3 separate regions of the Homo sapiens genome follow, and regions 1 and 2 are each linked to region 3. The links come from fine-mapping of genetic effects on gene expression. A gene starts in region 3. Each other region holds a variant in brackets. All regions are shown on one strand. Distances are between the middles of the regions.

Region 1 (2,755 bases), 56 kb before region 3:
GGAGAGCCTCTCTGGGAAGGTGGCAGACAGGATAGGCTGCTCCAAGTGATGAAAAGAGCCAGGCCTGCAGAGATGGGGGAGGAGAATTCTAGTAGAGGGGCCTGCCATGCAAAGGCCCTGAGGCAGGGAGGGGCATGACGCTTGAAGATTGCTGTGTCTCCAGCAAAACCAGCAAGGGCAGAAGGGAGGGGGTGGAGGGGGAGGCCAGAGAGGCGAGGAACTTGATTTTATTTATGTTCCAGGGGAGGCTTTTGGAGGGCATTAGGGCTCTGATAGAATCTGATTTATGCTTTAAAATGCAAGAGAGGCTGGGCGTGGTGACTCATGCCTGTAATCCCAGCACTTCAGGAGGCTGAGATGGGAGGATCCCTGGAGCCCAGGAGTTCCAGACCACCCTATGCAACATAACAAGACCCCCATCTCTAATATTTTTTAAAATAATAATAAAATGTAAGAGAAAGGAGAGACCATTGGAGACTAGAGTCACCAGGAAAGGCTTTATAGAAGAGGCAATGATGCCTTCTACCACAGAATTAGAGAGGAGTCATGATTTCCTATGAGCAGTACAAAAATCACCCCTTTAAAAATGCGGCTGGGCATAGTGGCCCCTGCCTGTAATCCTTTGGGGGGCCAAGGTGGGCGGATCATGTGAGCCCAGGAGTTTTTCTTTTTTTTTTTTTTTTTTGAGATGGAGTCTCGCTCTGTCACCCAGGCTGGAGTGCAGTGGCGTGATCTCAGCTCACTGCAAGCTCTGCCTCCCGGGTTCACACCATTCTCCTGCCTCAGCCTCCCAAGTAGCTGGGACTACAGGCGCCTGCCACCATACCCGGCTAATTTTTTGTATTTTTAGTAGAGACGGGGTTTCACCGTGTTAGCCAGGATGGTCTTGATTTCATGATCCATCTGCCTCGGCCTCCCAAAGTGCTGGGATTACAGGCGTGAGCCACCGCACCCAGCCGTGCCCAGGAGTTTGAAACCAGCCTGGGCAACATGGCAAAACCCCATCTCTACAAAAAATACAAAAAATTAGCTGGGCATGGTGGCACATGCCTGTAGTTCTAGCTGCTCAGGAGGCTGAAGTGGGAGGATCGCCTGAGCCTGGGAGGTTGAGGCTGTAGGGAGCTGTGATTGTGCCACTGCACTCCAGCCTAGGTGATGGAGTAAGACCCTGTCTCAAGAAAAAAATAAATAAATAAATCAAAACAGTTTCTCCCAGGAAGGCATACGAATGGCCAATAAGCACATGAAAAGATACTCAACATCATCAGCTGTCAGAAAAAATGCAAATCAAAACCATAATGAGATACTACTTCAGGGGAGCAGTGGTTCACGTTTGTAATCCCAGCACTTTGGGAGGCCAAGGCAGGCCAATTGCTTGAGGCCAAGAGTTCAAGACCAGCCTGGGTAACATGGTGAGACCCTGTCGCTACAAAAAAATAAAAAATTAGCAGCCAGGCACGGTGGCTCATGCCTGTAATCCCAGCACCCTGGGAGGCCGAGGCAGGTGGAGCAC[A/G]AGGTCAGGAGTTTGAGACCAGCCTGGCCAACATAGTGAAACCCTGTCACTACTAAAAATACAAAAGTTAGCCGCACGTGGTGGCATGTGCCTGTAATCTCAACTACTTAGGAGGCTGAGGTGGGAGAATCGACTGAACCCAGAAGGCAGAAGTTGCAGTGAGCCGAGACCACACCACTGCACTCCAGCCTGGGTGACAGAATGAGACTCTGTTTCAAAAAACAAAATAAAATAAAATAAATAAAAATCAGCAGGGTGTGGTAGCATGCACCTGTAATCCCAGCTGCTTGGGAGGCTGAGGTGGGAGGATCACCCCAGGAGGTCAAGGCTGCAGTGAGCTGTGATCATACCACTGCGCTCCAGCCTGGATGACAGAGCCAGACCCTGTCTCAAAAAAAAAAGAGCTATCAGGCTGGACGTGGTGGCTCACGCCTGTAATCCCAGCACTTTGGGAGGCCAAGGTGGGTGGACCACCAGGTCAGGAGTTCAAGACCAGCCTGGCCAAGATGGTGAAACCCCATCTCTACTAAAAATACAAAAATTAGCTGGGCATGGTGGCGGGCGCCTGTAATCCCAGCTGAGACAGGAGAATCACTGGAACCTGGGAGGTGGAGGTTGCAGTGAACCAAGATTACGCCATTGCACTCCAGCCTGGGCAACAGAGCAAGACTCCGTCCCAAAAAAACAAAAAGTTCTGATTTCATTTTAACCAGTACAAGATGCAGGAAGGGAAGCTGCCTGGTGACGTTCTTGCTATTCAGCCATGGCCTCGAGGCAGCATTATTCATAACCATGAGTAGCGTGGCCTTTCTGAACAGCTTCTGAAAAGCACGTTTGTTACTGCAGCTTTGCAGTTTACCTCCTTCTACATTCAGGGCTCAAACCCCGTTTAACACACGCCCCCTACTGGGCCACTGAGAACTGCTCGTCTCTGCAGATCCCCTTCCACCCGGTGTGCAGGCTCCCTGTGCACAACTCCCCTCCTCCCGTCCCTAGGGCACCGCCTGAGTTCACATTGTGGCCTGCACTGCCAGATCTCCCTCTAGCCTCTCACCAGCTCCGTCATCCTTAGAGAGGCACATCTCTAAGAACACTGATGCCATCACTCAAAAACATTTGGCTGGAAGCCGGGCACGGTAGCTCATGCCTGTAATCCCAGCACTTTGGGAGATGGAGGCTGGCGGATCACTTGAGGTCTGGAGTTCAAGACCAGCCTGGCCAACATAGTGAAACCCCATCTCT
Region 2 (2,737 bases), 50 kb before region 3:
CGCAGTGGCTCACGCCTGTAATTTCAGCACTTTGGGAGGCGGAGGCGGGAGGATCACCTGAGGTCAGGAGTTCGAGACCAGCCTGGCCAACATGGTGAAACCCCGTCTCCACTAAAAATACAAAAATTAGTTGGGCGTGGTGGCAGGCGCCTGTAAGCCCACCTCTTTGGGAGGCTGAGCCATGAGAATCGCCTGAACCCAGGAGGTGGAGGTTGCAGTGAGCCTAGATTGTGCCATTGCACTCCAGCCTGGGTGTCAAGAGTGAAACTCCACCTCAAAAAAAAAAAAAAAAAAAAAGACCCTTCCTAAGAACAGCACTGTAACTCATGAGTTATTACTCAAATGCATCTGTCCATCTACCCACCAACTCAGGTCCTCTCCATACACTCCTGTAAGTCACCGGGCTACCGGGAGACTGCATGGGAACAACCACGCTCGCGCAGCCTGTCCCGCAGCCATCGCTCCTCCCACAGCTCCTGGCTGCCCACGGCGCTTCCCTGTAGCAAACCCAGCTGCTGACGTCATAAAAGGCACACAGCCGGACCTGTCTGTGCTCATCTAGTTCCATTTACAACAGACTCATCCACAAAACCGAAGTGGTAGAAACAGGTCTTTTTGAAGCCAGGCGTGGTGGCTCATGCCTGTAATCCCAACACTTTGGGAAGCTTAGGCAGGAGTATCGCTTGAGCCCAGGAGTTCGAGAACAGCCTGGCCAACATGGTGAAACTCTGTCTCTACAAAAAAAACTTTAAAAAGTAGCTGGGGGTGGTGGTGTGTGCCTGTGTGGTCCCAGTTACTCGGGAGGCTGAGGTGAGCGGATCACTTGAGCCCAGGAAGTTGAGCCACAATGGCACCACGGCACTCCAGCCTGGGTGACAGGGCGAGATCCTGTCTGAAAAGAAAAAAAAAAAGAAAAGAGAAGAAAAGAAAAGAAAACAGGTCTTCCTGGGAGCACCTAGACAAAGGCCTTTGTAAAGATAAATTACCGAGGAATATTTCTAGTTGCCTGTTTTCTTCAAAATCACAGTCAAGTAAGCTGGGCGTGGTGGCTCACCTCTGTAATCCCAGCATTTTGGGAGGCCGAGGTGGGCAGATCACCTGAGGTCAGGAGTTTGAGACCAGCCTGCCCAACATGGTCAAAACCCCATCTCTACTAAAAATACAAAAATTAGCCAGGTGTGGTGGCACACGCCTGTAATCCCAGCTACTTGGGAGCCTGAGGTGGGAGAAATACTACCCAGGAGGCAGAGGTTGCAGTGAGCCAAGATTGTGCCAGTGCACTCCAGCCTGGGCGACAGAGCAAAACTCTGTCTCGGGAAAAAAAAAAAAAATCGCAGTCAAGTAAAAAGAAACGCAACTAAAAGAGCCGTCAGTTAAATACATTCCTCTCTCGTGGCAGGACGAGTCTATAAGATTTGTTTTGTTTTTAATTTAGTGTAAAGTTTTTTTAATGTTTAAACCTTGTGACACATCAAATTACATGCTTGAAGCTGTTACTTTCTGTCAAAAAAGTGAGTTTTTAATATGAAAATTCTGCTTAGGTTAAAAATTAAAAAAAAAAGAGCGAGTTTTATACATCCGCATGAATTGTTTCCTTTAGCACTAGTCAAACAGACTCCATAACCTTCCAAAGAAGTGCCTTCGTTTATTTACAGGGCTTAGGAAAGGAAAAAAGCTCTACAAAAGGGAAATTTCAAAATAGGGCTTCAGCAGGGGCCCAGGTGGAGTGAGTAGTTTTGATAAGGTCCAGGTGGGACTCACTTCCAGGTGGTGAGGACCGCTCTCCC[C/T]GAGTCTCTCGATCGGCCTGCTCTGGGCCCCAGAGACTGACCCTGACGGCTTCTCAGCTCCCGGTCAGCCCCGTCACCCTGGGCCAATTCTTCATCATACCTGGAGACAGAAACAGCCAGGATCACGGCAGGCTCTCTTTCAAAGGCAACAGGCAGGGCCACCAGGCTGCTGTGTGGCAAATATGACATCACCCAGAGAAGCGGCCTGAGGGGGCCCCACCCTCGCGACTCCTGCTGGCTCCCGCCCACCTCCCACCTGGCTCCAGCCCACCTGCCTGCCAGGTGGCTCTCGCAGCCCAGCAAATGCTCCCCAAGGCCAGCCTGCCTATGTGTACAACCTTGTTGTTATTGTGGACAGTGGTCTCCCCTCGGAAGCTGACATTTTATACAGGTCACCAGGTCAAATATGGCAATGACTCCAAAGGCAACATGCATGAGGTGACACAGAACCAGCCCAGGGTAAGTGAGGTGAGACTGCCTGGCTGGAAACGCTTCACACAAGGCACCTGCAGGCTGGGGGGACTAACTCCATTCCAGATGGGAGTGGTACATGAGCACTGGTCAGTGGAGGCCAGGGCAGAGAGGCCCCACGGTGCACACTCAGCTAGAGACTCTGCCAGTGTGACCCACGCCACCCCTCCCCATTTTCTTTTTTTTTGAGATGGAGTTTCACTCTATCACCAAGGCTGGTATACAGTGGCGCAATCTTGGCTCACTACAACCTCCACCTCCCTGGTTCAAGCGATTCTCCTGCCTCAGCCTTTCAGGTAGCTGGGATCATAGGTGCCCACCACCACACCCAGCAAATTTTTGTATTTTTAGTAGAGACAGGGTTTCCCCATGTTGGCCAGGCTGGTCTCGAACTCCTGACCTCAGGTGATCTGCCCATTCGGCCTCCCAAAGTGCTGGGATGACAGGCGTGGGCCACCGTGCCTGGCCCCCATTTTCTT
Region 3 (2,755 bases):
TGGGAGGCTGAGGTGGGAGGATTGCTTGAACCCGGGAGGCAGAGGTTGCAGTGAGCCAAGATCGCACCACTGCACACTCCAGCCTGGGTGACAGAGTGAGACGGTCTCAAAAAAAAAAAAAAAAAACCAAGAATATGGCCAGGCACAGTGGCTCACGCTTGTAATCCCAGCACTTTGGGAGGCCGAGGTGGGCGGATCACCTGAGGTCAGGAGCTCGAGACCAGCCTGGCCAACATGGCGAAACCCCATCTCTACTAAAATTTAAAAAATTAGCGGGGCATGGTGGCGCGTGCCTGTAATCACAGCTACATGGGAGGCTGAGGCAGGAGAATCGCTTGAACCCAGGAGGCAGAGGTTGCAGTGAGCCGAGAGCGACCGCACTCCAGCCTGGGCAACAAAGCAAGACTCCGTCTAAAAATAAATAAATAAATAAATAAAGTAATAACAATGTCAGTGATGACTTCATGTTGAGCAGGGCATTCGTTCACAGCGGTATTGTCACTGTCCATCTCCACGCCCGCACTGGGTGACAGTACCATGCTCCACAGTGACTGCTTACCAGTGTCTGTAATTTGAGGGCAGAGAAGGGCCCATCTTTTTTTTTTTTTTTTTTTTTTTTTTTTTTGAGACAGAATCTCGCTCTGTCGCCCAGGCTGGAGTGCAGTGGCGCAATCTCGGCTCACTGCAAGCTCCGCCTCCCGGGTTCACGCCATTCTCCTGCCTCAGCCTCCCGAGTAGCTGGGACTACAGGCCCCCGCCACCATGCCCGGCTAATTTTTTTTTTTTTGTATTTTTAGTATAGACGGGGTTTCACCGTGTTAGCCAGGATGGTCTCGATCTCCTGACCTCGTGATCCTCCCGCCTCGGCCTCCCAAAGTGCTGGGATTACAGGCGTGAGCCACCGTGCCCGGCCGGGGCCCATCTTTTTGTACCGCCACAACCCGGCACCATAATGTGCTCATCAAACGTTTCCTGAGCAAAGAACCTGCTTTGCAAATGCCAAAAGGGCTAACAATGATAAGATACTTTCACTTCCAGAATTAATCTCCTCTAATGCCCCAGCTACTCTATGGAAAAGGATGACTACCCCGCCCTGCCCTCTTAGCTGATAGGGAATCAGAGAGGGGAAATGTCTTGGTCCAGTCATCTAGAGGGAAGACACAAGGCTCTTGTCTCCTGCCCTGAGTTCTCTCCACAGGTACATTGCGCCCTGCAAAAGATGCCAACAGAAACAACACAGATTGCAAACGAATGGGAAACGTGTAGGAACAATGAAAGTCTGGGATAACAAATAATAAACATAATGATGCAATTGCAACAGTCGGACAGCACGAGGTAAGTCATAGGAACTCAGCGGACGGAGAAAGGCACGGTGGTTAGCGCGGGCTTCCTGGAGGACGCGGATCCGGCAAGCAGCATCTGAACCGCATTTTCGCAGCCGCGTAGACACTGGCGCCCACACTCTCTCACCCATGCGCACTCGCCAGCCCGCGCGCAGCCACACCCTCGGTGCCCGGGAGGCGGCGGCCTGGGGGACAGGACCTCACCTGTGGGCTCAGAGCGCCGAGGGACTCGGAGGAGCGCCCTGCAGGGATGCCTCGAGCCGCGCCCTCGCCCCGCCTCCAGCCCCTCTCCGGCGCTCGCAGGAGTACGCAGCCGACTGCCAGGCGCACCGGCCCGCCCCGCCCCGCGCTGCACTCTACTTCCAGGGCGGCGCCCTGGCAACCCAGGACGCGACCGCCGGCGCTGCGACTATTTCCGGAGTCAGACTTGCCTGGGGCTCCTTTGGGCTCCATACCTCGGGCGGCCGCTATGCCCAGGGCTTGGATCCTAGGAAATGCCAGGCCGTCCACCCTCTCGGGGCCCAGAAAGGAGATTGAGAAGGGTCTGGAGCACGGGATTAAGTCTAAAAAGAAAGGTAGAGCGGTGTGATGATTAGGTCCGAATCCTGGGTTCGGTCTCAATCCGCTGTTTAGCCTCTCCTACCCCTTCTACCTCGGCTTCCTTATCTGAAGAAATGGTGATGTTGCGCCACTGCACTCCAGCCTGGGCGATAGAGCGAGACTCCATCTCAAATAATAATAATAATAATAACATAAAAATAAAATAATTTTTTTTAAAAAGTGTTTATCTGGGCCAGACTCGGTGGCTCACGCCTGTAATCCCAGCACTTTGGGAGGCAGAGGCGGGTGGGTCGCGAGGTCAGGAGATCGAGACCATCCTGGCTAGGCTGAGGCAAGAGAATCGCTTGAACCCGGGAGACAGAGGTTGCAGTGAGCCAAGATCGTGCCACTGCACTCAAGCCTGGGCGACAGAACAAGACTCCGCCTCAAAAAAAAAAAAAAAAGACGTTTATTATTCTCGTTATAGACCTGTGTTACCTCGAATTCTCTATACAATTATTCATTTTTAATTTCATCAATTTAAAGAGTTATGCAAACTTGTGCAACTTGTAAGTGACAGAGTCTGGCTTTGAACCCAGGACACCTGACCATTCATGCTGCTGCCTCTCAGGAGGGGTGGTGGTGTGCTTTCTTAGTGATGATTGGAGCTTTGCTAACATCACTTCCTATAATCTCCCACACAACCGCCTCCCAGGCCCAGAGCACATTCAGCGCATCATCATTTACTTTTGGCACCATCTAGTGGAACCAACACTTATCTGGAGTCCAAATTGCCAATTCATACCCTTCAGCTGCTGTCTGGTTGTGAGGCCTTGAGAAGTCCCAAGGCTTCCGACTACAGTGTTCTCACC

Alleles and levels. Positions count from the first base shown, and alleles are read on the strand shown. Sizes are in standard deviations (SD) of each study's normalised expression. Not every link is listed here.
For the expression in cerebellar hemisphere of the gene that starts at base 1,662 in region 3, T is the low allele of the variant in region 2 and C is the other (moderate effect, 0.49 SD a copy in GTEx).

The links. PIP is the estimated chance that this variant, and not a neighbour inherited with it, causes the effect.
Region 1: its variant is fine-mapped to the expression of TTLL1 in whole blood (INTERVAL, PIP 0.97).
Region 2: its variant is fine-mapped to the expression of TTLL1 in cerebellar hemisphere (GTEx, PIP above 0.99). The same link has a PIP of 0.9 or more in anterior cingulate cortex, cerebellum, cerebral cortex, hypothalamus, nucleus accumbens and prefrontal cortex.

Annotation. Positions count from the first base shown.
Region 1 is chr22:43,031,631-43,034,385 of GRCh38, forward strand. No RefSeq gene overlaps it. Among named protein-coding and RNA genes, the nearest start is that of TTLL1-AS1, 5.6 kb to the right of the region's middle. RefSeq lists an enhancer at 2,417-2,755. The variant A/G (reference allele first, on the strand shown) is at 1,514.
Region 2 is chr22:43,038,019-43,040,755 of GRCh38, forward strand. TTLL1 (TTL family tubulin polyglutamylase complex subunit L1) reads right to left here. Exons shown (of 11, transcript NM_012263.5): 11 at 1,498-1,887. The coding sequence ends at 1,758. It overlaps TTLL1-AS1 (TTLL1 antisense RNA 1), which reads left to right and starts at 567. Exons shown (of 3, transcript NR_125362.1): 1 at 567-2,246. The variant C/T (reference allele first, on the strand shown) is at 1,788.
Region 3 is chr22:43,087,730-43,090,484 of GRCh38, forward strand. It overlaps TTLL1 (TTL family tubulin polyglutamylase complex subunit L1), which reads right to left and starts at 1,662. Exons shown (of 11, transcript NM_012263.5): 1 at 1,548-1,662. RefSeq lists silencers at 1,430-1,769, 1,534-1,828, 2,577-2,636 and an enhancer at 1,534-1,828.